Homo sapiens: one gene and its partners. The protein of the gene in region 1 interacts with the protein of each later gene in a biochemical or structural test. Each region holds a gene or a part of one and is shown in the gene's direction. Other genes may lie near its edges.

Region 1 (4,244 bases):
CCTTCTGCCATAATTGTAAGTTTCCTGAGGCCTCCCCAGCTGTATTAGTCTGATCTCACGCGGCTAATAAAGAGATACCGGAGACTGGGTAATTTATAAAAGAGGTTTAATTGACTCACAGTTTTACATGGCTGGGGAGGCCTCACAATTATGGCAGAAGGTGAAGGGGGAGCAAGACACATCTTACATGGCATCAGGCGAGAGAGCTTGTGTAGGGGAACTCCCCTTTATAAAACCATCAGATCTCGTGAGACTTATTCACTATTACAAGAGCAGCACGGGAAAGACCCACCCCCATGATTCAGTTACCTCTCACTGGGTCCCTCACATAATATGGGGAATTATGGGAGCTCCAATTCAAGATGAGATTTGGGTGGGGACACAGCCAAACTATATCACCAGCCATGTGGAACTGTTGAGTCAATTAAACCTCTTTCCTTTATAAATTACCCAGTCTCAGGTATTTCTTTATAGCAGTGTGAGAACAGACTAATACAAGCACCTTGAGGTCAGAGGCTAAAATCACTTTTTCCCAAACATTTCCTTTTTATATATGCTACATCTTTGTGTCTGCTTCAACATTTCCAGCAGTGCTTTATATATGGTAGGCATGCAATAAATGCTTCTTGATCGACTGACAGGTGCTCAGAAGATCTAGGTTGGTTGATTCTCTTGTGATGCCATCTTTTCCTGAGAGCTCATTAATTTTTAAGTTGTTTTCCTTGAAATGCATGGTATGTTTCCTCCACCCTGCTCTTTGCCTTTCATAGGGTTCCATTTTGATCAGCTGCTCTCATTGTCTGTTTTGTGATCAAAGGTTCTGATGAACTTTGGAATATGTGTATGTTTGGAGTGAGGATGGGGTCTGGAGGAGATGCATGGTTGAGGACCAATTCACCCAACCCAGCTTACAGAAGTAAAGCGGCCCCTTAGGAGCACTGAAGCATTGCTGTGGATTTCAGAATTACCTTATTTCTTTTTCTTTTTTTTTTTTTTTTTTTTGAGACGAGGTCTCGCTCTGTCGCCCAGGCTGGAGTGCAGTGGCACAATCTCAGCTCACTGCAAGCTCCGCCTCCTGGGTTCACACCATTCTCCTCCCTCAGCCTCCCCAGCAGCTGGGACTATAGGTGCACGCCGCCACGCCTGGCTAATTTTTGTATTTTTAGTGGAGACAGGGTTTCACCGTGTTAGCCAGGATGGTCTCAATCTCCTGACCTTGTGATCCACCCGCCTCAGCCTCCCAAAGTGCTGGGATTACAGGCGTGAGCCACCGTGCCCAGCCAGCTTCTTTCAAATCAGAGTAGGCCTTCCAGTGTGGCAGGCCATAAGATCTGAAGTTTTCACCCTGTTCCTGGAAGCCAAGTGGACAGCAACTAATTTTTACTTTCTTTATTGCACATTTGGGGCTTGGGGGATAGAGTCAGATGTGTGTCAGTTGAAACTGTAGCTACTGCATTCCACTCCTTGGGGGATCGTAGTGCTCATGCCAACAGAAAACTTCGAGGCTAATAATTACTGTCTTCAGAGTACAAGACAGGCACGGAAGTTGTTTTGGCATAAGAAAACCACGATTTGCATCCCACAGTCTAAGGAAGACGATGCTGAATTCAGAAGATGGTGCAAAAGTGTGACAGTTCAGCTGTGGCGGCTGTTGCTGATGCATGGGACTATTTTATTTACATTTCCTTTCTTCTTTTTTAACAGAGACAGGATCTTGCTGTGTTGCCCAGCCTGGTCTTAAACTCCTGGGCCCAAGTGATCCTCCCACCTCAGCCTCCCAACGTGTTGGGATTACAGGCATGAGCCACCATGCCTGGGCTTTATTTATATTTCCAAGTCAAATGTTAGTTGGTCAATCAGTCTTTTTAAGCACCAATTTTGTGCCTAGCCTTGTGGAAACTGTAGGAAAAAGATACTTTTTATTTGGGAGGACCTTGATTTGCTGTCACAGGTGCCACTAATGCCAATTATAAGGCAGTGTGGAATCAGGTGATTGAAAGCCCAGTCTGTAGCATAAACTGCTGCAGGGTTCCAGTGGGGGCAATTAAGGTGGGCAGGGAGGGTGGATAGCATTTGACTTTGACAGCATAACCTGAGCAGAGGCACAGTGGGGATGGTGAGTGTGCAGTGGGAGGAGGGAGAGAGGTAAGTGGTAGGGAAGAGGTGGGAAGGGGGCAAGGAGAAGGCTCAGGAGGTTTGGGGACAGGGAAATGACTTGGTTGGCGACCTCTTACTTTCTTCTCGTGTGTGCAATTTGGAATTCACTTGGTTCTTAGTATTTCTGGGTCAGATGACTTCTTTGCAGTATGAGAAACCATTTCCCAGGCTGGCTACCTGGGCTGTGGTATCTTCCAGTGCTCCTCTGTGATTGTACTCAGATCAGCTCGTCTAGGCAGGCAGGATGGCAGAAGCCCTCTGACTTCATGTCTGAAAGAGTATGTGTTTCAACTCTGTAATTACAGCATTTAACAGACGATATCAGCCCTCTTTGGGATGGCTTTTGGCAAATGGGCTAGAAGTCTATTGTGCATTTAAATGATACTGCATCTTCTCTTTAAAAGGTTTCTCAGTGAGTCCACCCCACTCTGTATCCAAGTATGTCTCAGGCCATGAGGCAAAAGGAAATGAGTAGTTCTTTTTGGTTGGAGAATTAAAAAGAAATCTCCACCCAAGTAACAGGTACATAGTGGGAAAAAATAACATCTGCCTGAAAGCTTCATCTTCAGGCAAAGAGAGGGTCAGGGGGCGGGAGCTTAGTAATGGGGAAACCTCAGAAGATTTAAAGAGAATTACAGACAGACAAGGCTGAACATTGGCTGTCATCCAACAAAGCTCTTATAAGATGGGAATCACTGCCCGGTTCTTGAGCTCCGACCTGGAGGGAAGAGGAGTCTGGAAGACTTGGCACAGGCCTGAGTGCTTCATTGTCTTTCTGGTTCCAAGTCCTCCTCAGCTCACTAGGAAGGAGGTGGGGTGGGGGCAGGTAGGCCACTCTGCATAAGTGCACACATCTACACTGGCTAGTCTACTTCACAATTCCCCCACAGGTTATCCTTATCTCTACCTGGTTCCAGTTCCAGATTGGAGGGATATAGAATACCATCCCCACCCCTCACCTTGCTTGCTCTGGCCTGGAAAACTGTCATTCCTTTACCACCAGCTGGCATCTGCCATATGCTTCAAGGAACTGAATAAAGAGGAAGGGGAAAGAAGAAACTAGAGAAACTGGAATGCTTCCTATCTGACCCCCAAGTACAGGGACTGCCTCTTTCCGTAACGGCACAGAACGTCTCCATCCCTTTGACCTCCACCTCCCCAGAGATGCCCGAGGAGGACAGCCTTGTTTCTGTGATCTGTTGTTGAGAACTGCTGCTGAGAATTCTTCCTTCAGCACCGCCTTAGGCACCATTGGTTTTTCACTAGGTCCGCTGTAGAAAACAGCCAGGAATTACTTAGTTGACTACCACCTGAGGTGCTGTTTGGTGTTGGTAATAAAGAATAAAGGTGGAAATGAAGCAACGAGACTGCTTTTCTTTGTGGTTCATAAATTAATTCTGATAACAGTTTTTAAAAGAGAAGTCAAATATTTTGAGCAGAGCCAAGCTCACTGACATACCTAGGTGGTCTTAGATGTAGCCAATGCGCCAGGTACCACAGGACGCCTAAATTTGTATCAGTGTATACCATCACTAGTTATGAATAAGAATGCCTTCTTGCCACATATCCTCATTAACTCAGTGTATTATCAAACTTATTTAACTCTTTCAGGCCAGGCATTGTGGCCCATGCCTGTAATCCTAGCACTTTGGGAGGCCAAGGCTGGTGGATTTCTTGGGCCCAGGTGTTTGAGACCTGCCAGGGCAACACAGGAGTTTGAGATCAGTCTGAGCAACATGGTGAAACCCCACCTCTACAAAAAATACAAAAATTAGCTAGGCATGGTGGCGTGTACCTGTGGTCCCAGCTACTCAGGAGGCTAGATGGAAGGATCACTTGAGCCTGAAAGACAGAGGTTGCAGTGAGCTGAGATCACACCACTGCACTCCAGCCTGGGGGGAAAAATATTTCAGTCTGAGAGGTGAAAAATGGTAAGAGAATTTGATCTTTTCAAAAGGTAATCATGTTTCTCCCATGCTCAAGACCTTCACTGCTTTCTTATTGTGCTTACAATGAAGCCAAAGTCCTTTAGCATGGTCCAGAAGGTGCTCATGGTCTGGACTCACTATCTCTCTGACTTTATCTCA
Region 2 (4,244 bases), on another chromosome or scaffold:
GCAGCCAGGCCAGCTCTGAGGCTGAGTGCCCTAAGCAGAAGGAACTGAAGCTCAGATGTGGCCTTTGTAATCAAGCAGAGGGAAGAGCAAAGTGAGACGGGGAGAACCATAGGAGAGTGATGAGGTTGGAGAAGCAGCAGGGCCTGCTACAGAGGCCCTTGTAGGAGTTTGCATTTTCTTCCAGCAGCAAGGAGAAGCTATTGGGAGTTCTTAGCAGGAGTAACAGAATCTAGTTGACACTTTAAAACACCACTCTGGCCTCATGATCAAGAACTCTAGGGAGGCCCGGGCGTGGTGGCTCACGCCCGTAATCCCTGCACTTTGGAAGGCCGAGGCGAGTGGATCAGCAAAGGTCAGGAGCTCGAGACCAGCCTGGCCAACATGATGAAACCCCATCTCTAATAAAAATACAAAAATTAGCCAGGCATGGTGGCAGGCACCTGTAATCCCAGCTACTCAGGAGGCTGAGACAGGAGAATCACTTGAACCCGGGAGGCAGAGGTTGCAGTGAGCCGAGATCATGCCATTGCACTCCAGCCTGTGCAACAAGAGCAAAACTCTGTTTCAAAAAAGAAAAACTCTAGGGAGGAGGTAAGTGTGGAAGTTAGGGAGACCATGAAGCTGTTATCATGGTTCAGGTGTGAGATGCTGGTGGCCTGGAGTCAGGTTGTAGCTGTGCATTGGAAGTGAAGAGGTAAGACATGGGGTTTACTTTGGAGGCAGAACCAGAAGATTTTATTTTAGATTGGGCGATCTGAATATAAGGGAAAAAGAGAAAGAGAAGGATTGAGGATGACTCCAGGTTTTAGCCTGAGTAACTGGGTAGATGGTGGCATTTACCAACTGGGGGAAGACTAGGGAGGGGATTTGGGAAGAGTCAGACAGCCAGGGTGGAAGCAGAACCTTCCACAATTCCTCCTTGCACCTCTTGTAGGAGCAGAAACTCTGCTTTTGTTCTGCTTTGCTCCTCTGGCTTCCAAGGGATGGAGCATATAGAAACATGTTCTTTTTGGCCTACAGGGCTCCACAGAGAGCTGCAACACCACCACAGAAGATGAGGACCTCAAAGGTAGGTGCTGGCCCTTGGAGGGGGAAGGACTCCAGCAGTGACCCAGGTACCTGGGCTCCAATGGGGCACCTGCCTTTTCTGTCCCCAGAACTGGGAATGCTGGCTCCTATGCCCCTAGGAGAGGGCTTGGTATAAAAGCTACTTTCCACGAGCCAAGATATGAGGCCCCTGTCTGGTGTTGCTGAGTTGGGCAAGAGGCTTCTCTTCTTTGACCCCAAGTCTAAAATAGCTAAGCTAGAGATTCTCCAGGGGCCAGGGCTCAGAGAACTGTTCCTGTTGCTGATAATGATGTGCCATCCAAGAACAGGGGTACCCCAAGTCCCTGCCGAAGTAGCCTGTAAGTGCTATGAGTCATAAATAGAGTGACCAATCACTCCTGGTTTTCCTCGGACACAGAACTTTTGGTTTTAAGACTGTGATGGGCCAGGAGTGCTGGCTCACACCTGTAATACCCAGAACTTTGGGAGGGCCAGGGCAGAAGGATTGCTTGAGACCAGGAGTTTGAGACAAGCTTGGGCAACATAGCAAGACCTTGTCTCTATTAAAAAAAAAAAATTAGGAACAAATAAATAGGCCAGGTGCGGTGACTCACACCTGTAATCCCCACACTTTGGGAGGCCGAGGCAAGTGGATCACTTGAGGTCAGGAGTTCAAAACCAGCCTGGCCAACATGATGAAACCCCGTCTCTACTAAAAATACAAAAAAAGGCCGGGCGTAGTGGCTCACGCCTGTAATCCCAACACTTTGGGAGGCCAAGGTGGGTGGATCACCTGAAGGTCAGAAGTTCAAGACCAGCCTGGCCAACATGGTGAAACTCCATCTCTACTAAAAATATAAAAAATTAGCCAGGTGTGGTGGCAGGTGCCTGTAATCGTAGCTACTCGGGAGGCGGAGGTGGGAGAATCGCTTGAACCTGGGAGGTGGAGGTTGCAGTGAGCCGAGATCACCCCATTGCACTCCAGCCTGGGCAACAAGAGCGAAACTTCTTCTCAAAAAAAAAAAAAAAAAAAAAAAAAATTAGCCGGGTGTGGTGGCGGGGTCCTGTAATCCCAGCTACTCGGGAGACTGAGGCATGAAAATGGCTTGAACCCGGGAGGTGGAGGTTGCAGTGAGCTGAGATTGCACCACTGCACTCCAGCCTGGGTGACAGAGCGAGACTCTGTCTCAAGAAAAAAAAAAAAAAAAAAATATATATATATATATATATATATATATAAATATAAAACCCAGATAGTCCTGGGAACACTGGGATGAGTTGGTCACTCTAGTCCTAAGATTTTGGCCTGAATGATGGAGTTGGAACTAATCTGACAACCGTGAGGCCACATTTGGTCATGTCCTGGTGGGCCCGTAAGGACCACTAGCCTAAGCTTGGGCCTGGCTAGAGTGCCAGGGCGGTGGGAGGGCATGGCAGGCTGGACCCCCGGGAATCTCTGTCCTGCTCTTTGATTGGGCCTCCTGGAATTGCTCCCTTTGCCTGAATTCAGTAAGTGACCTTGGGCCAGGACATCAGAAAAGACAGAGGAACACTCTAGGACAGAGCTGGGAGAGCATGCCCTGGGTGGCAAGGGGGCACCAAACCTTTTGGAACCAAAAAAAATAGCAGAAAGCTGCGAGGAAGTGAATCATAGTAGCTCCAGGCCCCTGTGAGTGAGGTCAGATCAGTTTTGATTCCGGCACTGCTGGCAACATAGGAGGCGCTGTCACTGCTGGGCTCTGGACCCTGTGGCCTGGCCCCCTGGAACATCTTCCCCGGGATCAGGGGTCCTTGGACAGGCTGTTGTAAGGCTCGTCTGGAAGCCACAGCCCAGGTCTGGGCACCTGCCTGGTGCCCTCAGCTGGGAGGCCTCTCTGGCAGAGGCGGCGGCGTGGGATGTCGTCCAGTGTCCACAGCAGCCTGAGGCGAGGCGTCCCCTTGCCCCGGCTCTGCAGCGCCATGGGCTCGGGGCCTGTCTGGCTTGCTCGCTCACCTGCCTTGTTCTGTTTGTTTTGGCTGCTCTGCCTTGCCCTGCCCTGCCCTGCCCTGGCTGGCTAGCTGCCCCGCTCCGCACTGGGAATGGCAGCTCGGTGCCTGAAGGACGGAGCTCCCGGGACAGAACAGCCCCCTCTGCAGGCATGCAGCCCCAGCCTTCTCTCTGCTCCTCAGCCAGTAAGTGTGAGGGAGGCACATTCTGGCTTCCGTCTCCCTGGCTCGTCCTGAAGCCCCTCAGGGACCCCCACCACAGCTGTCAGTCCCACCCACCTGCCCGTGGTAGTAAGCTCTGGGAGCATGGCCTCTGCTGGGGGTGGGGGGTAGACTGGAGGTGCTGTTGAGACCAGGCAGGGGCCCCTGAGTCTGGGGCCCAAAGAAATATGAGAAGTGTGGGTGGAAAAACATGGCCTGGGATGAGGGGAGTAGAAAGCCCCCAGGATGTGCAGTGGGCCTTGCCTCAGCGCTGAGCCAGGAAGAAGGGCAGAGTCGGAAGTCAGGTCTGTGGGGGTGGGAGTGGGATGATGGGGAAATCGTGACAGCGAGGAACTGTGTTGGGGATGTAGTGCTTCCTGAGTCTCAGCATAACAGTATTAAGAGCATGGGGTCAGAGGCAAGATAGATCTGAGTTTAAATCCCAGCTACACTGCCTTCAAGAGTGTGAAGTTTAACCTCCCAGAGCTGCAGGTTCCTTATCTGTAATGTGGAAATAAAATGGCACGCACCTCAGAGCCTTGTTAGATAAAAGACAAGGCAGTAGGAAGTCTTGATACGGTGCCTCGATGGGTTATCAGTAGCTCATCCTCATATTTCTAGTTACGTCTGTGCTGGAGGATGCCTTTGTCTGCTGCTTTTCCTCCCACCATCTATCCTTGCAGAGTTTCTAAGCACAACCCTCTTCGCCCGTGGGGCCCCAGTCAGGTCATCCAGATGGGTCTGGTGGGGTTGGAGAGGGTGTGTGTGTTGTGGGTGCACACCTGCCTGCTGCTTTTGGAAGCCGATCGAACTCCTTGCTTCCCTTAACCTGCTGCTTGCTCACCTGGAGCTGTGGCCTAGCGGGGCTGACGGCTGTGGGGCCCCCTCCTGGATGTGCCTTTGGCTGCGCTGCCCTGTCCCAACTGTGCTGCTTGGCTGTGCTGGCCCGGCTGGGCCGTGGTGGTGCTGTTCTAACGCTTGCAGTTGTCTTGCAGCCTTTTGCTCCTGTG
Region 3 (4,244 bases), on another chromosome or scaffold:
TTTAGGGAGACATGAGACATCAGTCAACATATATAAGATGAACATTGGTTCGGTCTGGAAAGACGAGACAACTCGAAGTGGGGAGGGAGCTTCCAGGTTGTAGGTAGATAAGAGACAAATGGTTGCATTCTTTTGAGTTTCTGATGCGCCTCTCCAAAGGAGCCAATCAGATATGCAGGTATCTCAGTGAGCAGAGTGGGGACTCTGAATAGAATGGGAAGCAGGTTTGTCCAAGCAGTTCCTAGCTGGACTTTTTCCTTGAGTTTAGTGATTTGGGAGCCCCAAATTGATTTTCCTTTCACAGCATTTATGAACTGCAGCATGAATTGTTTTATTAAGTGGCTAACCATGTTCTAGAAACCAAGAGATGTGTTTGTGTGTGTGTTTGTGTGTGTATGTGTGTGCATATGTGTGTTTGTGTGTGTTTGCATGTGTGTGCGTGTGTGTGTTTGGGTGTGTGTGTTTGTGTGTGTATATGTGTTTGTGTGTTTGCATATTTGTGTGTGCATGTGTGCGCATGCGTGTTTGTGTGTATTTGCATGTGTGTGCACGTGTATGTGCGTGTGTGTTTGCATGTGTGTGTTTGCATGTATGTGTTGGCATGTGTGTTTGCGTGTGTGTGTGCGTTTGCGTGTGTGTGTTTGCGCGCGCGCGTGTGTGTGTGTGTCTAAATGGCTTCTTTGTTACTACTATCAACTGTCATCGGCAGGTCCTTTGGCGTGGTCCTTTGGGAAATCACCAGCTTGGCAGAACAGCCTTACCAAGGCCTGTCTAATGAACAGGTGTTGAAATTTGTCATGGATGGAGGGTATCTGGATCAACCCGACAACTGTCCAGAGAGAGTGTAAGTGTAGAAAGGGTTTAAGGTGTGTGAGGTGTTCGTTGAAAGGGTATTGCCCTTTACACGTGTGCTTGGTTTTGCCTTTCCTATGTCTACACGCTCACCGTGTTTGCATGCTGTATGTTACAGGTGTGTTTGTGTTTGCATAGCTTGTCTTTACATGCATGCTTGCATTTGCATATTGCATTGTGGTACACACACTTGAGTTCCCATATGTGCTACATGTACGCTTACGTTTGCATATTATATATTTACATAGGTATTTATGTTTGCATATTATATGTTTCTGTGTGCATCAGCATATCATGGCACATGTACACCTCATTTACATATTATAAGCACACATGTTTACATATTATGTCTTTACCTGCCTGCTTGTGTTCACAAATCATATGATTTTCTTGCATATTGTATCTTTGGAAGGTTGCACAAAACACCTATAGCGGTAGTTATCTTGGGAGAAGGGAACTGGAGACCTGGGGTTGGGGGAGAGAGACCTGTTTGCCTGTTAATTTTTTTTTTTTTTTTTTTTTTTTTGAGACGGAATCTTGCTCTGTCACCCAGGCTGGAGTGCAGTGGTGCGAGCTCGGCTGACTTCAAGCTCCGCCTCCCGGGTTCACACCATTCTCTTGCCTCAGCCTCCCGAGTAGCTAGGACTACAGGCACCCACCACCGCGCCTGGCTAATTTTTTTTTTTTTTTGTATTTTTAGTAGAAATGGGGTTTCACCGTGGTCTCGATCTCCTGACCTCGTGATCCACCCACCTTGGCTTCCCAAAGTGCTGGGATTACAGCCGCCTGTTAATTCTTTATACACTTAAAATTTTGTCAGGTAGCTGGGCATGGGTGGCTCACGCCTGTAATCCCAAGCAATTTGGGAGACCGAGGTGAACGATCACCTAAGGTCAGGAGTTCAAGACCAGCCTGGCCAACATGGTGAAACCCCGCCTCTATTAAAAATATAAAAATTACCCAGGCGCGGTCGTGGGCGCCTGTAATCCCAGCTACTCAGGAGGCTGAGGCAGGAGAATTGCTTGAATCGGGGAGGCAGAGGTTGCAGTGAGCAGAGACTGCACCATTGCACTGCAGCATGGGTGACAGAGTGAGATTCTGTCTCAAAAACAAACACAGACACACAAAAATTTTGTCAGGCATACATATTATATATTCCCCCCTCCAAATATATATGCATATGTACATATATATATATTTAGATGAAGTCTCGCTGTGTCACCCAGGCTGGTAGAGCGCAGTGGCACAATCACAGCTCACTGCAACCTTGAACTCCTGGACTCAGCCTCCTGGCTCAACCTCCCAAAGTGCTGGGATTACTCTTGAGCCAGTTTTGAAATGAGGAATCCCTTTTCAAAACCATCTTTCAGGCTGGACAGGATGGCTCATGCCTGGAACCTCAGCACTTTGGGAGGTTGAGGCAGGAGGATGGCTTGAGCCCAGGAGTTCAAGGCTGCAATGAGCTATGATTGCGCCACTGCACTCCATCCTGGGTGACAAAGTGAGAAACCCTGTCTCAAAAAAAAAAAAAAGCGGCCAGGCATGGTGGCTAACACCTGTAATCCCAGCACCTTGGGAGGCCAAGGTGGGTGGATCATTTGAGCCTAGGAGTTTGAGGCCAGCCTGGGCAACATAGCAAAACCCTGTCTCTGCAAAAAATACAAAAATTAGCTAGGCATGGTGGTGCACACCTGTGGTCCCAGCTACTTGGGAGGCCAAGGTGAGAGGATTGCTCGAGCCTAGGAGGCAGAGGCTGCAGTGAGCTATGATCATGCCACTGCACTCCAGCCTGGGTGACAGAATGAGACGCTGTGTCCAAAATAAGAAGAAGAAAAGCAAAAAGAAAACACCATCTCTCAGCACCTCTAGCAATGCTATTTCTGCCTTGACAATTGTCCACACACACAGCCAGCATCTGATGTGAGCACATGTGGTCCGTGGGTGTCGGCTGCAGGGACAAGAGTGGGGGTTTGGGAGGATGCGTGGCAGGGCCCCCAGACTCACCCAGGACGTGTCCTTCTGCCCCGCAGCACTGACCTCATGCGCATGTGCTGGCAATTCAACCCCAAGATGAGGCCAACCTTCCTGGAGATTGTCAACCTGCTCAAGGACGACCTGCACCCCAGCTTTCCAGAGGTGTCGTTCTTCCACAGCGAGGAGAACAAGGCTCCCGAGAGTGAGGAGCTGGAGATGGAGTTTGAGGACATGGAGAATGTGCCCCTGGACCGTTCCTCGCACTGTCAGAGGGAGGAGGCGGGGGGCCGGGATGGAGGGTCCTCGCTGGGTTTCAAGCGGAGCTACGAGGAACACATCCCTTACACACACATGAACGGAGGCAAGAAAAACGGGCGGATTCTGACCTTGCCTCGGTCCAATCCTTCCTAACAGTGCCTACCGTGGCGGGGGCGGGCAGGGGTTCCCATTTTCGCTTTCCTCTGGTTTGAAAGCCTCTGGAAAACTCAGGATTCTCACGACTCTACCATGTCCAATGGAGTTCAGAGATCGTTCCTATACATTTCTGTTCATCTTAAGGTGGACTCGTTTGGTTACCAATTTAACTAGTCCTGCAGAGGATTTAACTGTGAACCTGGAGGGCAAGGGGTTTCCACAGTTGCTGCTCCTTTGGGGCAACGACGGTTTCAAACCAGGATTTTGTGTTTTTTCGTTCCCCCCACCCGCCCCCAGCAGATGGAAAGAAAGCACCTGTTTTTACAAATTCTTTTTTTTTTTTTTTTTTTTTGCTGGTGTCTGAGCTTCAGTATAAAAGACAAAACTTCCTGTTTGTGGAACAAAAGTTCGAAAGAAAAAACAAAACAAAAACACCCAGCCCTGTTCCAGGAGAATTTCAAGTTTTACAGGTTGAGCTTCAAGATGGTTTTTTTGGTTTTTTTTTTTTCTCTCATCCAGGCTGAAGGATTTTTTTTTTCTTTACAAAATGAGTTCCTCAAATTGACCAATAGCTGCTGCTTTCATATTTTGGATAAGGGTCTGTGGTCCCGGCGTGTGCTCACGTGTGTATGCACGTGTGTGTGTCCATTAGACACGGCTGATGTGTGTGCAAAGTATCCATGCGGAGTTGATGCTTTGGGAATTGGCTCATGAAGGTTCTTCTCAAGGGTGCGAGCTCATCCCCCTCTCTCCTTCCTTCTTATTGACTGGGAGACTGTGCTCTCGACAGATTCTTCTTGTGTCAGAAGTCTAGCCTCAGGTTTCTACCCTCCCTTCACATTGGTGGCCAAGGGAGGAGCATTTCATTTGGAGTGATTATGAATCTTTTCAAGACCAAACCAAGCTAGGACATTAAAAAAAAAAAAAGAAAAAGAAAGAAAAAACAAAATGGAAAAAGGAAAAAAAAAAAGAACTGAGATGACAGAGTTTTGAGAATATATTTG
Region 4 (4,244 bases), on another chromosome or scaffold:
TTATTTCTTGACTTTAACATGTATATGGGGGAAATGGTACAGTGTTTTTAAAATGTTTATTTTTATATGAATATACAGTTTTATTTTCTTCTTTCTTCCCTTGCCTGAAATTCTCAAAGATTCTGATAAAGAAGTCACTCAGCTCCTTCTCTGAAGGGAATATTTCACTATTCTCAGGGTTATGTTATATTCAATAAACATTTAAGTGCTTACTTTGTTCAAAGCATTAATGGGGTTGGGAGAGGGGATGGGATAAAAGAGATGTAATTCATGGATGGTTTGTTTCAAAGTTGAGGGTGGGAGATTTCTTTCAAGGCAAATGACACTTTGATTGGGTGGAGGGTAAGGAAGGGGAACGGTTACGTTTCTGAAACAATCCCGGGGTCTGTAATACTTCCACAAGATTCTGTTTGAATATCTCCCTCTTCTCCCCTCATCCAACTCTTACTACTGGTTGGTAACTGGTGTTTTGTCATTGATGGGTTCCTTTCTTCTGTGACCTCAGGCAAGGTCAGCCTGTATATCCCATCACGGGTGGATTCAGGCAACCCTACCCATCCTCACTGTCAGTCGACACTTCCATGTCCAGGTAGGTGGAGGTGGAAACTGGGGCGCTCGAGGACAAGTTGCTCTTCTCGTGCTTGCATCCTGTGCGCCTCTGCTTGCCTTTTGGTTGGCTAGGAGGGTGCATACCTCAGCCATGTGTCTGTCTGTGCAGTGTGCCTGGCTCCCACACTAGGTGTCAGAGAGAGTCCCGGGTAGGAGCTCTGCGCTGTGCCCCGGCCGGACCAGCCACACCATCGGGCGATGGACTCAGCCTCCTTGGAAAGCGTTGCCTCCAAACAAATTCATGGCCGCCTGACTGTGGGATGGGAACTGTCCGGAAAGCGGACATTACAAGAAGAGTTTGTTTGATTCAAAATATGCCGGGGGTGGGGTAAGGGAGGAGGATAAAACTGGTTTGGTCTCAGCTCTATAATTTGCTTCCTTTGTGGAAAGTTGTATCAGTTTGATGCGGCAGTGTTTGAAAATGCCCAGATAGTCTAGAGCCTTCCTGGATGGAGGCTGTCAGAAGAGACAGAACAGTGCGGACAGGCTGGCAGGCCATACAGGGTGTGCGTCCTAGTGTGTGAATCAGGCCCTGTGTGGACATGGTCATGCCAGCGGAGCTCGGGAGGCCTGCCGCGCCGCACCGAGAAGCTGCTGTGTGTGATGCTTTTGCTTCTGGAGAGGATGGCACTGTGCCCTGTGCTTGATGTACACACACATTTGGGGTGCATCATCTGTGTGTTCGATGTGGCTTTGTCAAGGGAGCTAGCATTATTGTGCCGGAAGTCAAACTGGTGGGTTATTAACTGGTTGTGAATATGTCTTTTTTATATGGGTATAGTATTCAAAGTTTCTGTGGTGAATTACAGCTTTAAAAAAACTTTTTTTTTCAGTGAGTTGTAAATGTAGCTGATTGTGGGAGGAGGTGGAATTAATATCCTTCCCCTTAAAACATATTTTTATACTTTTTAACATTGTAAGAACTATCTGATGATAGAACTCTCACAGGCAAATAACTATCATCATGTATTTTTGCAAGTAATACATTTAGCAAAGCATCATTATTTGGTCAAATATTTGTATTTTTACCATGCTTCCTTCATATTTTAAAATTTGTTTTTGAAAAATATATATCCTAGCAGAGTTCCTTTCAAGAAAAGGAAATTAATTGTGTAGGCTGTGATGAAAGACCTGAGAATGTTGTTCTTGCTGAATTAAATGTTTACTTTAAAAAGTTTGAAAAGCAAAAATTTCTAAAACATATCCAAATTTATCTAGAGAGCTTATTGAAAATACTGTCTTTATTTTATTTTTCTTGCCTGGCAGTTTCCCTCCTTTGTGTTGGCTGGTGGTGGATATTTTAAGATTTTTTTTAATGCTGTTCAAGCGTACTTGGGAAAAAGCCTTTGGCAAGTGTAGTTTTTAACCTTGATGCAGAACTTTATCCTTCCTTTAAATTCTTCTCCTTATTTCTGTTACCAGTTTTCCATAAGATGAGATCTCTGAAACATTAGTGTATTTCTGCACAGAAAATCATTTTGGATGATGTTAATGGAAACCTTATTAAATGGGAGACTGATTCCTATCCGTTTTCTCAGTTGTTCCCTCCTAATATGGATGAGGAAGCCAATAATATGAGAAAATTCCCATTGTGATGGTTTGCTTAGGAATATAGGCAGAGATTTTAAAACATGATGTGTTTTGCTTTCATTTAAAAATCATTTAAAAAGTCAAGTCTTAAATAAAGTGTTATATTTCCAATAATTACTTTTCGTGAAATTCCTATTTCAAAATTGCTTTGCAAGAAAAATGATTCACTTTTTTTTTTCCACCCGAATATAGAAAGAAAAAAATAATTATCGGCCCACTCTAATTTATAGTTAATGCTTCTGTGCGTAAAGATGTGTTTTTACTCTTAGCCAGTAGCAGTTAGTGGATTGCTTTGAAATTCCATCTAGCTTTTGCTGCAACAGCCAGTAGTACATTGTTTTCTTCTCTTTCCTCCTTTCAGGTTTTCCCATCATATGATTCCCGGTCCTCCTGGTCCCCACACAACTGGCATCCCTCATCCAGCTATTGTAACACCTCAGGTCAAACAGGAACATCCCCACACTGACAGTGACCTAATGCACGTGTAAGTATCCACCCGGGCTCTGCTGTGATTGCCTTAGGATACTGAGGATTTCTACACTGTTGCTCCTTTGCAACAGTGATCCTTCACCCCTTTGTGTTGCTGTGAAACTCAATGCACCTCTGCCTTGAAAACTCTGTCCCTGAGGACATTAAGCAGCTTCATTCCTACTGTGCTGATTTTGATTCTGAGGTTGCAAAGGAGCACGGACCCTAAAAGATCATGGGAACCTCACCAAAATGGAAGAATCTTCAGAACATAGGCATTCGAGACTCTTCAGCTGTTTAGCCATTTACCACTGAATTTTCATTTGGTTCAGATTATTGGGGAGAACCTGTTCCTACCTGAGTGAAGTAGATTGGAGGGTTTAATGCACTTTCTTCTGGAAGTGCAGTTACCCTGGCTCCAAGCTTCAACAGCACAGAATTCAAGGGAAAGGAACAAATAAAGCCCAGGATTCCCTGTTGGGCCAGGGTTGTCTCAGACTGTGAGTGCAGGCCTAAATTAATTTACTCTGAAGAGATGAGTAATTAGTTTCTTAATCTAGGTTTTGTGGATGGGAGGGTGGGGGTGAGAGGCAGCATGTGATGGTCCATAAAGCCCTTGCGAATGTATGCAAAGGCAACATGCATTTGTTTGGGGGAAAAGGTCTAAAGATTTATTAGCTTCTCAAAGTGCTCCTTAACCCCCTGCAAAAGTTAAGAACCTCTATTCTGAAAGAGGAATGATCACCTGTGCTGTGTGTTCAGCTTCTTCTGAGGGGACCAGAGAAGTCCTCAGCCTCAGAGCCCATCTGGAGCATCTTCACAATGCCAAGTCCATTTCTACTTGGTGTTCATAGTTCTATAATGACAGGTCCACTTTCTCAAACCAAAGGGTTTTATTCTCAGTCACTGAGTAGATAGGAAGCCCTATTGGATGGGTTGTTTGCCTCTCAGTGTTTTGTCAAATGAGTCAATAACTGCTCTTCCAAGTTGGTGGTGGTCTGGGGTGAGAGGGTTGTCGCCATCCTGAGTGTAGCCATGTGAGCAGGTGCTCTGCTTTTCTCCTCCCCCATCCCTTCCTCATTCCTTCAACCCCTTCCCCTAACCACCACCACCACCACCTTTTAGGAAGCCTCAGCATGAACAGAGAAAGGAGCAGGAGCCAAAAAGACCTCACATTAAGAAGCCTCTGAATGCTTTTATGTTATACATGAAAGAAATGAGAGCGAATGTCGTTGCTGAGTGTACTCTAAAAGAAAGTGCAGCTATCAACCAGATTCTTGGCAGAAGGGTAAGTAGCCGAGTCATGTGTAAATGTTCATGGTAGCCATGGAACTGCTTCATGAAAATCTGCCCCAATTTAATCCCATATCAGGTGGTCATAGAATGTGTTTGCACTTCAAGATATGATATGATGCATTTTAAAGAATTTTGATAACTGTTTTTACTGTTATTCTTTTTTTTTGAGACAGCGTCTCACTCTGTTGCCCAAGCTGGACTGGAGTACAGTGGTATGATCATAGTTCACTGCAGCCTTGACCTCCTGGGTTCAGGCGATCCTCCCACCTCAACCTCCCGAA
Region 5 (4,244 bases), on another chromosome or scaffold:
TGGGCCTTGGCTGTCAGCTCACCTTGTGCAGTGTGTAATTTGGTGGTATCTGTACTGACCAGGTGAACAGAGGAGGGGAAAGCACCAACCATGGCAGAGTCCAGAAAGGCCTCTCAGCAGGCTCAGTCCAGAGCGATCTTCAGACTCCGAGTCGAATGAAAATGAGCCACACCTTCCACATGGTAATAGTATAAACAAAACAGAGCAGCAGAAAGGCTTGCGTTTTCTTAATTCTCTGCCTTGTAATGCTTGTAGAGAGTCATTATTGTAAGAAAGCCAGGTGTGTAAACAGATCCTTCTTCCTGGGCTTACTATAACTTGGCCCGTTGGGGGAATGAGAAGGGTTGTTGTAAAGGTGGCAGCCTGCAACTTTAATAATGACCAGTCCACAGTTTTGGCCACCCAGGGTCTGGGTAGGCCCAAAACTGTGTTCTGTTTTCCCAGAGGAGAACAGGGCCTGACAAACGGATTCATTTTGTATTTTTCATTAATGTAACATTTATGCAAATTTTCCATTAATGTGGAAACTATAACTGCTAAGCCAATGAGACAGTCAAATCAGTGAGAGGCTCTGCACGTCTTCCAGAATGACAGCCCACTGGGAAACGGAGTTAAAAGTCCAAGATGAGATGTAGCTCAGGAGTCAGGCCGCTTCGGGAGTTTGTTGTCCTTAACAGAAGGTCAGCGTTGGCAAAGCTCGGCAGCTCCTCTTTCTGTCCTGAGGTCTTGTCTAGTGACTGAGAACAGGCTGACCCCTATGTGCTGTCCTTGTTTGGATGGCACCGGGTAAAGACTGACACCAGCATTTTCTCTGCAGGCCTTTGAACTTTTGTGTTATTTCATATATTATATGTGTTATAAAGCACATTACAATATATTTTTCTCTGTCTTCTCCAGTCCTAGGTGAAATGTGTCATTTAAAAAAAATTTCACTTGCCATTCTAAAGTTTTTCTGGTGAGAGTTTTGTGTTTTTCATTTACGCAAACACATCTCCACATAAGTAGGGAAAAAAAGTCTTCTTGAGTATATTAGTGTCTTCAGCCTTTGTATTGGGACAGTAGCGTCCATTAATTTTTATGTGAAGTGAAATTAGGTATCGGGTCATAATCAGTCTGTGATGTCTTCACAGCTTTCACATTTACCTTGTGATAATCAAGTGTGTTTTTCCTCAGGTGTTAGCCAGAGAAGAGGGGTCAGGGACTCTTCCCTGGTCGTAGCTTTCATCTGTAAGGTAAGGAAGACTTTCCGGAGGGCTGTACATGACTGGGGTCTTGGTCAGCGACCTCTGGTTTGCACTTTTTCATTAATTTGAGGGTAGGCACTCCTGTTACCTGAGACAAGAAGAGATAGCAGATCTTCAGAAAAGCTGATGGAAGGCCGGGTGCAGTGGCTCACGCCTGTAATCCCAGCACTTTGGGAGTCCAAGGCAGGTGGATCACGAGGTCAGGAGTTTGAGAACAGCCTGACCAACGTGGTGAAACCCTGTCTGTACTAAAAATACAAAAATTAGCTGGGTGTGGTGGCGCATGCCTGTAATCCCAGCTACTTGAGAGGCCAAGGCAAGAGAATCGCTTGAACACAGGAGGCGGAGGTTGCAGTGAGTTGAGATTGCACCATTGCACTCCAGCCTGGGTGACAGAGCAAGACTCTCTCAAAGAAAAAAAAAATTCGATAGAAATGACACTGGCAATGAGCCTGCAACAAGTATTACTACTGACCTTTCATAATTGTCATCACTTGTAGGTTTCAGAGTTTAGATGCTCTGTTTCTCAAAATAACCCCATACTTTTATTTCCTTTTAAATTTTTTTCCAGTGCCCTGTCAGCCTCCGTACATTTTTTTTTTTTTTTTTTGAGACCATGTCTGTCTCCATCGCCTAGGCTGGAGTGTGCAGTGGCACAATCTCGGCTCACTGCAGCCTCCACCTCCCAGGTTCAAGTGATTCTCCTGCCTCAGCCTCCCAAGTAGCTAGGATTATAGGTGCGCGCCACCACACCCAGTTAATTTTTGTATTTTTAGTAGAGATGGGGTTTCACCATGTTGGCCAGGCTGGTTTCACTCCTGACCTCAGGTGATCCACCCACCTTGGCCTCCCAAAATGCTGGGATTACAGGCGTGAAGCACTGTGCCTGGTCCATATTCTTTTATATTTGCCAATGATTGGTCCTTTTAGAATTCAGAAATTATTGAAGGCAGCTGTGTTTGTTTTCCTTCAACTCCATCAGGCCTTTATTCAAAGTCTTTTAACTCTGTTTTACTTTATTTCATTCCCCTGCAATAGCTAAGGTCTAACACCAGATTAATTGGAATATTAGCTAGCATTCACAAAGGCCTAGATCTGTAACTCTGAAATTGGTCAAATTCCATTAAAAATTTTTGTTACAATAAGCTGTTTGTAAGATCTGACTAGTGGCTTATTTTTAATAGAATTTTGCATTAAAATTTTATCAATACAATTTGCAACAAATTTGTCTAAATATGTGAAAAGATTTCATTGCCTTTTTGTGGGCTTAGATTATTTTTTAATGTTGATTTTGAAATATATTTGGAATTGTTATCTAAATTCTAAAAGCTACAAGTGAAAATAATAATGAAAGTAAGTAGTTAATATTAGTGGCAAGATCATTGCCAGTATCATTTCTATCGATTTATTTGAATAATGTGATTTTCATAAAAGTTAAGTACTACTGTTAACAGGCTTATTACTTGTATGTTTCTGAGTTTTAGATAGCAAAATCATTTTTTAAAGTTTTAAAAATATTTTATTTTTGATAATCTATATTTATATTGTCTGATTTTTAAACTGTTTTCTATGGTAATCTTTAAATCGTATTCCTGCTTTCCGGAATAGGTAACAGTGAGCATGATGAAAAGTGACAAGCTCACTTTTACACACTCGGGCAGTTGCCCTATTATCAGGCAGCCGTTCCTGGGGGCTGCCAGCTGCCTGCCCTGGCTTTTCCATCTCCTTCCTTGCTGTCTTCTGCGGCTCCTTCTGAGGGCTGCTGTCACTGGATTAGCCTATAACGCCTTTCCCCTCTTCTAATTAATTTGCTGCTCTCAGGTGAGGTTTTGGAAAGCAATAAAGCTGAGCTAGGTCAAGTTCCAGGAGTCTCTTGGCATGAGGACCTGAAAAACTCATCTGTTGGAAGACCTCGGCTTTGGGCAGCTGGTGCACTGTTGGGGCGTTATTGGCTGCGTTCTGGCTCTCATCAGTCTTCCAGATACTCTGCATTCCTCAGAGAGGAACATATCTCCATGGGTTGAGTTCAGCTCCCAGGGAGATGGGTTTCCCTGCCTTAAGTCGGCAAGTACCTTTTTTTTTCTTTTTTTGAGACAGAGTCTCGCTCTGTCACCAGGCTGGAGTGCAGTGGTGCGATCTTGGCTCACTGCAACCTCTGCCTCCCAGGGTCAAGCAGTTCTCCTGCCTCAGCCTCCCGAGTAGCTGGGACTACAGGAGCGCACCACCATGCCCAGCTAATTTTTGTATTTTTTTAGTAGAGACGGGGTTTCACCATGTTGGCCAGGATGGTCTGGATCTCTTGATTTCCTGATCCGCCTGCCTTGGCCTCCCAAAGTGCTGGGATTACAGGCGTGAGCCATCATGACCAGCCTTTATGTTTCTTTGTTTGTTTTGTTTTTCTGAGATGGAGTCTCGCTCTGTTGCCCAGGCTGGAGTGCAGTGTTGCCATCTCGACTTACTGCAACCTCTGCCTTCCAGGTTCAAGTGATTCCTTGCCTCAGCCTCCCGTGTAGCTGGGATCACAGGTGCCTGCCACCATGCCCGGCTAATTTTTGTATTGTTAGTAGACACAGGGTTTCGCCATGTTGGCCAGGCTAGTCTCGAACTCCTGACCTCAAGTGATCTGCCTTCCTCAGCCTCCTAAAGTGCTGGGGTTACAGGAGTGAACCACCATGCCCAGCCTTCAATTACCTTTTATTTATTTTATTTATTTATTTATTTTTGAGACGGAGTCTTTCTGTGTTGCCCAGGCTGGAGTGCGGTGGCGCAATCTTAGCTCACTGCAACCTCCTCCTCCCAGGCTCAAGTGATTCTCATGCATCAGCTTCCCGAGTAGCTGGGACTTCAGGTGCCCGCCACCACACTTGGCTAATTTTTGTGTTTTTAGTAGAGACGGGGTTTCACCATGTTGGCCAGGCTGGTCTTGAATTTCTGACCTCAAATGATCCTCCTGCTTCAGCCTCCCAAAGTGCTGGGATTACAGGCGTGAGCCACTGCCCC
Region 6 (4,244 bases), on another chromosome or scaffold:
TCTGCCCGTCTCGGCCTCCCAAAGTGCTGGGATTACAGGCATGAGCCACTGTGCCCGGCCAAAAGATTTTTTTTTACTTTAACATAAAATAGCCTGCCACAGTTGTTTTATTTTATTGTCATTGATGGTGAGAACAGTGCTTCCCCATTTCTGTCCTAAAAGCCCTCTGGCAAGACTGGAACAAAGCTCTTGTGAAATTGGAGGGTTTTTTTGGGTTTTAATTTTGGTTTTGGTTTGTTTTTGTTTTTTTTTTTAATCTTCTGCTTCCTTTTGTTGTCTAAGTAATGCTTTGCTTGGCCTCTCATACTTTTTTTTTTTTCTCTTAAATAAAGAGACAGGGATTGTACTTTGTCTCCCAGGCCTGCAGTGCTGTGACATGATCATGCAGCCTTGAACTCTTGGGCTCAAGTGATCCTTCCACCTCAGCCTCCCAAATAGCTGGCACTGTAGGTATGTGCCACCACACCTGGGTAATTTATGTTTTTAGAGATGAGGTCTTGTGTTGGTCCAGCTGGTTTCAAACAACTGGGCTCAAGTTCTTCCATCTCAGCCCCAAGTGGCTGGGCTTACAGGCGCAAGCCAGCGTGCCCAGCTCTCCTATACATCTTTTGAAGTGGGTCAGCTGAAAGGAAAAAACCCCTAAAACTAGAATGAGGTGCTCTTCTCCAACATTCTCATTTTTCTTGAGCATTCAGTTATATGTCTCATATGCTGCTAACACTTGATATATTAGCTTCCATTCATCCCCTTTCTCCTTTCTTACTTTGTTTTTGTTTGTTTGTCTAGAGACAGAGTCTCCCTCTATCACCCAGGTTGGAGTGCAATGGCATGATCTTGGTTTACAACAACCTCCGCCTCCTGAGTTCAAGCAATTCTCCTATCTCAGCCTCCCGAGGAGCTGGGATTACAGGTGCCTGCCACCAAGCCCAGCTAATCTTTGTATTTTTAGTAGAGACGAGGTTTCGCCATGTTGGCCAGGCTGGTCTCGAACTTTTGACGTCAGGTGATCCGCCCGCCTTGGCCTCCCAAAGTGCTGGGATTACATGCATGAGCCACCGTGCCTGGCCACTTCTACTTGTCCACATTACTTATTTCTTTCTGTCCTAGGGCCACCTAGCCTCCTTTTGTGGCACTGTGTGAGGAATGTGGGTTAGATCAGCTGCTCAGAACTCCAGGGTCCCTCATTGTAGGGCTTCCTGATAGTTGTTTGACCATCAGTAAGCTCCTGACCTTTGAGCCTTCCTCATTTGTAAAACGGTTTTTATAGGTGACATCAAGGTTCTGTGAAGTAACGGAAAATGTTTGGCAGCACCAAAGCGCTTTCTAAGAGATGAATACTGCCATGTTCAAAACCCTCTTTCATAGTTTGTAGTCCTTTTTTTTTTTTTTTTTTTTGAGACAGAGTCTCGCTCTGTCGCCCAGGCTGGAGTGCAGTGGCGTGATCTCTGCTAACTGCAACCTCTGCCTCCTGGGTTCACGCCATTCTCCTGCCTCATCCTCCGGAGTAGCCGGGACTACAGGCGCCCGCCACCACGCCTGGCTAGTTTTTTGTATTTTTAGTAGAGACAGGGTTTCACCGTGTTAGCCAGGATGGTCTGGATCTCCTGACCTCGTGATCTGCCTGCCTCCCAAAGTGCTGGGATTACAGGCGTGAGCCACTGCGCCCGTCCTATAGTTTGTGCTCTTTTTTATTCAAATACAGAGTGAGCCACGATGATTGCTCTTATGCTAATAGGAACTCTAAGATACTTTCTGGCCCAAGTATAGATGGAAAAAATACAACAAATACCAGCCTAACAGAATTTTGGGATGTACCCTGAAGGTGGCAAACCAATACAGAGGGTGTTAATTCAGCCTCAGCCAAGCATGGATGCTTGGACATAGGTGTTTTTGTGGTCCTGATAGGAAAACTGGTTTTATATGGACACAGGGCCCAGTTGTGACAAACTAGGTAGAAATGTGATGACATCTTCAGGATTGGTGTCAAGTTATAGCCCTCTTACCTAACTTAGATTGATGCACCATACATAGAAAGATCCATTGGCTTGGGGAAGCAATGTCAGGTTGGCATTTTCATAGCTTATTTCTCAAAAGCCTAGTAGTGAATGTATATTACTGGTTGTATCCTAACATTTTCTCCAGAGAGTGGCTGTTAATTGCTGCATGTCTGTAAGCATGAACTGGAAGGGTCTTTTCCATCTGTGGCAGTATGTATGTTTTGGAAGCAGCTCTTTGGTTCTCTTGGAAACATTATTTCTGCCTGGGCATCTTGGAACAACCAGAATCTTGCCCATAAGAAATTTAGAGACCTTGACTTAAAACCTTGAGGCATGGTCTGTGAGTATTTTTCTTGTGCTGCAAACCTTGGACATCACTGACCCTCGCAAGATAGGGGGAGGTTCTCACTTGAGGAGAGTCCCCTGGAATAAAAGTGTTTGATTGAAGAGCATATTACAGGCTACCTGCCTGCCTCAGAGCAACTCAAGAGTCCCCAAGATGGGAGAGGGTACTGTGTAGGAATATTCATTTAACAGTATGCAATAGTATAAGGCCAGACGTCGTAGCTCACACCTGTAATCCAGCACTTTGGGAGGCTGAGGCAGGAGGATCACCAGAGGTCAGGAGTTTGAGACCAGCCTGCCCAACATGGCAAAACCCAATCTCTACTAAAAATACAAAAAATTAGCTGGGCGTGGTGGCAGGCACTTGTAATCCCAGCTACTTGGGAGGCTGAGGCAGGAGAATCACTTGAACCTGGGAGGCAGAGGTTGCAGTGAACTGAGACTGCGCCACTGCACTCAAGCCTGGGCGACAAGGGCGAAACTCTGTCTCAAAAAAAAAAAAAAACAGTAGGCAATAGTACAGCCTAGGGAACCATACAAGATTGTAGGTGATCATGGTACCAAGAGTAGGCCTGCTCACAATGAAAAGGCCCCTTTTGATATGAGACAGACTCAACATCTTGGAAGCATTTTATCAAGCGCCAATAGAGGCTGGATATATGACTAAACACCGTGGGGTGGAGGGGGCCGGGAGAGTGGGATTTGCCAGGGAGTAAATGAGCTCCATTATTGTGAGGGCAGACAGATTGTGATAATTGGGCATCAGTATATCTTAGTTACACATGCCAGAATGATGGTTTGCATGACAGAAGTACAGTGGGCCTTGTGGAGGTTATTTGTGATGCATCCTGGGGCAAAAGTTCGGGGGTGGAAGAGCCATCAATTTTAAGGAAGAAATCATTTAGAAACTGAAATTTGGGCTGTGAAGGTGCTAAGAGAAGAAAGATGTGTTCCAAGTATTGGAGGGAGACCTCTTGGGCCTCAAAGGGCCTCTGTACAGAGGATGTTTAACATGGAGTCTGGTGATAAGAATGGGGTAGCAGAGCTGGGTGCAGTGCTGGGCAGTGTTGAATGGGACTTGTATTCAGAGCCCAGGCATCAGTTTACCCTTCTACCACAGGAGGGTGAGGATGTACCCGGATGTGAAAGGAGTACTCTCTCACCTTACGTGATGCATTATTTCAGACATTTCTTGAGTAGTAAAGGCACAGCCAAAAGGGCTTTCCTGTCATCTCAGGCCTTGCCTAACAGCCAGCATGGTGTCTTTTCCTACCTACCAACTCAAAATACAGATTTGTTTCCATGGTTTCCACATTATAGCAGAAAATTTACTTAGTCTTGTATCTTCCTCTCTCGCCTGTATGCCTGGTAGGATGTTATTTAAAATTTGATTTCTTCCCTCCTGTCTGCTTTCTTTCCTAGTAGAATGTTATTTATAATTAAACACTTTTATAAGCTACAGAGTTATTTTTGACTTGACATTTTGAATTATGCCACTTGGTTCAGTTCTAGTATCTGTTTTGTTTTTTTGTTTTTTTCCTAATTGAGTCAAGGTCTCACTGCCTAGGCTGCAGTGCAGTGGCACAATCTCTGCTTACTGCAACCTCCGCCTCCCGGGCTCAAGCAGTCCTCCCACCTCAGTCTCCCAAGTAGCTGGGACTACAGGCGTGCACCACCACAGTCAGCTAATTTTTTTTTTTTTTTAAATGGAGTTTCGCTCTTGTTGGCCAGGCTGGAGTGCAGTGGTGCAATCTCAGCTCATTGCAACCTCCACTCATTGCAACCTCCGCCTCCTGGGTTCAAGCGATTCTCCTGCCTCAGCCTCCTGAGTAGCTGGGATTACAGGCATGCTTCACCACGCCCAGCTAATTTTGTATTTTCAGTAGAGATGGGGTTTCTCCA
Region 7 (3,312 bases), on another chromosome or scaffold:
CGTGGAGGCTGTTTATTTCAACCTTTTTAAAAATTGTGTTTTTTAGTAAAATGGCTTATTTTTTCCCAAAGGTGGAATTTAGCATTTTGTAATGATGAATATAAAAATACCTGTCATCCCCAGATCATTTAAAAGTTAACTAAAGTGAGAATGAAAAAACAAAATTCCAAGACACTTTTTAAAAGAATGTCTGCCCTCACACACTTTTATGGATTTGTTTTTCTTACATACCCATCTTTTAACTTAGAGATAGCATTTTTTGCCCTCTTTATTTTGTTGTTTGTTTCTCCAGAGAGTAAACGCTTTGTAGTTCTTTCTTTAAAAAACATTTTTTTTAAAGAAGAAGAAGCCACTTGAACCCTCAATAAAGGCTGTTGCCTAAGCATGGCATACTTCATCTGTTCTCATTTGTGCCATCTGCCGTGATGTCGTCACTTTTATGGCGTTAATTTCCTGCCACTACAGATCTTTTGAAGATTGCTGGAATACTGGTGTCTGTTAGAATGCTTCAGACTACAGATGTAATTAAAGGCTTTTCTTAATATGTTTTAACCAAAGATGTGGAGCAATCCAAGCCACATATCTTCTACATCAAATTTTTCCATTTTGGTTATTTTCATAATCTGGTATTGCATTTTGCCTTCCCTGTTCATACCTCAAATTGATTCATACCTCAGTTTAATTCAGAGAGGTCAGTTAAGTGACGGATTCTGTTGTGGTTTGAATGCAGTACCAGTGTTCTCTTCGAGCAAAGTAGACCTGGGTCACTGTAGGCATAGGACTTGGATTGCTTCAGATGGTTTGCTGTATCATTTTTCTTCTTTTTCTTTTCCTGGGGACTTGTTTCCATTAAATGAGAGTAATTAAAATCGCTTGTAAATGAGGGCATACAAGCATTTGCAACAAATATTCAAATAGAGGCTCACAGCGGCATAAGCTGGACTTTGTCGCCACTAGATGACAAGATGTTATAACTAAGTTAAACCACATCTGTGTATCTCAAGGGACTTAATTCAGCTGTCTGTAGTGAATAAAAGTGGGAAATTTTCAAAAGTTTCTCCTGCTGGAAATAAGGTATAATTTGTATTTTGCAGACAATTCAGTAAAGTTACTGGCTTTCTTAGTGATGCAGTGTCCGTGGTGCATTTTTTTAAATTAATGTTTTGCTGTTTAAATTTATTCAATTTTATTGTGTTTTTTAAAAAGCAGCTTATGCCACAAGCACAAATGAGCTTTCTCAGTTTTCAACTCAAAATATTATATGAAAAGATGGATATGTGTGTCTGTGTGGGAGGGGTGTGAATTGGATGACGGTTCTTAGGGTATTACAGAATTCAGCCAGTGGTGGAAGTCTAAGGTTCTTATTGAATGGTTCAACTTCTTTATCAAAGAAGTTCCATGAAGATCTTTGATAACCTGTTTAAATGTACAGAATTTTTCAAAAGCCACTGTGAAAAGCAGTACCATAAGTTATTTTTTAACTAAAATCTGTAGAAAGTGTTTCCAAAAGAGTTCCTTTTTTCTTCTTCGAAGTAATTTCTAAAAGTTGAAAACATAGGCTTATAAATCTGAATAAATTAGTGAATTCATACATTTTAGAGACTATCAAATATATCCATTATTAACATTCAATAATAATCTCTAAAGGGGAATGTCCTTAAAAAGATTGATAGAAAGATTAATTTAAAAACTGAAAAGGAAAACAAGACACCACCAGTTAGCCAGCTGGAGAACTTGGACTTTTGCATTAGTAGTGATATCTGCTCCAAAAAGAATGCAGTTCGAGGAAATGTTGCATGTGGCTTCAAAATAGCAGTGCTTTCTGCTTTGTTCTCTTGTATTCATTTTCAGCAAACATGTATTAAGCAATTATTATATGTAACTCATGTGGTGATTCCAGGATGAATGAAGTTGTAGCCCTTTCTCTTAGGAAACTTATAAACTAATAGGAGATAAAAGGCATTCTCAGGGAAGTCTACAAAGTGCTATGAGGGAGCCACTTTGGCCATCCTGGGGCAGAGCAGACCAGAGGCTCAGAGCATGGACACTTCCTCATCCACCCAGCAGAAGCCTTTCACTTGATTTTGAAGGTGGGCAGGATTGAGAAAGGCCCAGAAGGGGATGAGTTCAAAGCTGTTTGTGGGCATGTGACCCCTGCAGTCACATATGGCCCTAGCTTGTGTTTCGTTTAGTGTTCTGCTATCATTATCCTGATAATATCCTGATAATAAAATTATCCTTAATAATTTTATATTTGAGTTTGAATGTTGTAAGCAAAGTCCTGTAGGACAATAGAGCATGTGCCTGAACAGAAGAGATACACAGGAAAAAGTGAACTGTTTTATATTTTAGTACCTTTAACAGAGAGAACCTTTTATTTCACTTTTTCAACAAGGACTTCCACATTTTCATTCTGCACTGGGCCCTGGAATCATGACACCATCCCTGGATGTGGGCATTTCACAGGGAAGAAATAGTAGATACAAAGGTACAGAGATGGGAAAGCAAGAGACAAACTTACAGGAATTGTGGGCCTTTCTATTTACGTAAAGTGTAGCCGTGTGTAGGGGAGCAGTGAGACAAGACTGGAAGAGTTAGTTTGCCTCTGATTATATAATCGCAAATTTAAAAGAGTTAGGTTTAAGCAAGTAATTGAAAGATTTAGGAGAGAGAAAATTGTCAGAATTCAGTAAATGGTTAGATTAATGGTAGGAGTGGTGATAGATAAGGAATTGTTAAAGTTTACAGTTTTAGGCTTAAATGATTAGGATCCTAGTAATGTCCAAACTGGAAATTGAGAGGTCACTGCTTTGTGAGGAAGGTAGTCACTTCAGTTTTCAGTATGTTGAGTTAGAATATGAGAAAGTTGTAAATAAGGACTTAAACTCAGGATTCAGTTAATGCTGGCCTGATTTGGATGTGTGGGTGTTTTTTTTTTCTTTCAATTATGTTTGAAAGTCTGGATTAAATAGAGATACTGAATTTGGCAAGGGAACCCTATTCAGAACAGAGCATCTGAATTTTCATCTTGTGATTTGAGAAAACCCTTTTTCCATTTTGTTTGCATATTTCTATGGCATCTTTCCTATGTGTTATCCTTGCAGACTGACTTCTAAACAAGATCCAGTGATGAAGGAGTAAAGCCAAGTTCACTTCCCTACTGTGCATATCCCTTGGATTCCAACTGTCCGAATTGCCTGAAAGCAAATATCTCCATCACCAGAAATGAGGCTGCTCTTTAACCTCTCCTGTCCTAAGCATGGCCTCCTTCCTGGGAACTTTTGTTAAGAGTTAGAATTAGGAAAACATGGG

Evidence for each region.
Region 2: of the proteins of SMAD2 (region 1) and CAMK2G, one has a biochemical effect on the other in vitro, tested with the Homo sapiens proteins (one study listed by BioGRID).
Region 3: the proteins of SMAD2 (region 1) and INSR form a complex in vitro, tested with the Homo sapiens proteins (one study listed by BioGRID).
Region 4: the proteins of SMAD2 (region 1) and LEF1 form a complex in vitro, tested with the Homo sapiens proteins (one study listed by BioGRID).
Region 5: the proteins of SMAD2 (region 1) and ELAC2 form a complex in vitro, tested with the Homo sapiens proteins (one study listed by BioGRID).
Region 6: the proteins of SMAD2 (region 1) and RHOA form a complex in vitro, tested with the Homo sapiens proteins (one study listed by BioGRID).
Region 7: the proteins of SMAD2 (region 1) and MEF2C form a complex in vitro, tested with the Homo sapiens proteins (one study listed by BioGRID).

The regions. Positions count from the first base shown.
Region 1 is NC_000018.10:47,808,228-47,812,471, reverse strand, and holds the end of SMAD2 (mothers against decapentaplegic homolog 2), read left to right. Parts: 3' UTR 1-3,515; downstream 3,516-4,244. UniProt on the Homo sapiens protein: Receptor-regulated SMAD (R-SMAD) that is an intracellular signal transducer and transcriptional modulator activated by TGF-beta (transforming growth factor) and activin type 1 receptor kinases.
Region 2 is NC_000010.11:73,818,507-73,822,750, reverse strand, and holds part of CAMK2G (calcium/calmodulin-dependent protein kinase type II subunit gamma), read left to right. Parts: intron 1-1,020; coding exon 1,021-1,069; intron 1,070-3,105; coding exon 3,106-3,219; intron 3,220-3,855; exon of another isoform or gene 3,856-4,244.
Region 3 is NC_000019.10:7,116,049-7,120,292, reverse strand, and holds part of INSR (insulin receptor isoform Long preproprotein), read left to right. Parts: intron 1-709; coding exon 710-844; intron 845-2,882; coding exon 2,883-3,237; 3' UTR 3,238-4,244. UniProt on the Homo sapiens protein: Receptor tyrosine kinase which mediates the pleiotropic actions of insulin.
Region 4 is NC_000004.12:108,077,931-108,082,174, reverse strand, and holds part of LEF1 (lymphoid enhancer-binding factor 1), read left to right. Parts: intron 1-505; coding exon 506-589; intron 590-2,560; coding exon 2,561-2,683; intron 2,684-3,792; coding exon 3,793-3,955; intron 3,956-4,244. UniProt on the Homo sapiens protein: Transcription factor that binds DNA in a sequence-specific manner. Participates in the Wnt signaling pathway. Activates transcription of target genes in the presence of CTNNB1 and EP300.
Region 5 is NC_000017.11:13,007,601-13,011,844, reverse strand, and holds part of ELAC2 (zinc phosphodiesterase ELAC protein 2), read left to right. Parts: intron 1-62; coding exon 63-182; intron 183-1,173; coding exon 1,174-1,232; intron 1,233-4,244. UniProt on the Homo sapiens protein: Zinc phosphodiesterase, which displays mitochondrial tRNA 3'-processing endonuclease activity. Involved in tRNA maturation, by removing a 3'-trailer from precursor tRNA.
Region 6 is NC_000003.12:49,369,885-49,374,128, reverse strand, and holds part of RHOA (transforming protein RhoA isoform 1 precursor), read left to right. Parts: intron 1-4,244. UniProt on the Homo sapiens protein: Small GTPase which cycles between an active GTP-bound and an inactive GDP-bound state.
Region 7 is NC_000005.10:88,716,056-88,719,367, reverse strand, and holds the end of MEF2C (myocyte-specific enhancer factor 2C), read left to right. Parts: 3' UTR 1-2,251; downstream 2,252-3,312. UniProt on the Homo sapiens protein: Transcription activator which binds specifically to the MEF2 element present in the regulatory regions of many muscle-specific genes. Controls cardiac morphogenesis and myogenesis, and is also involved in vascular development.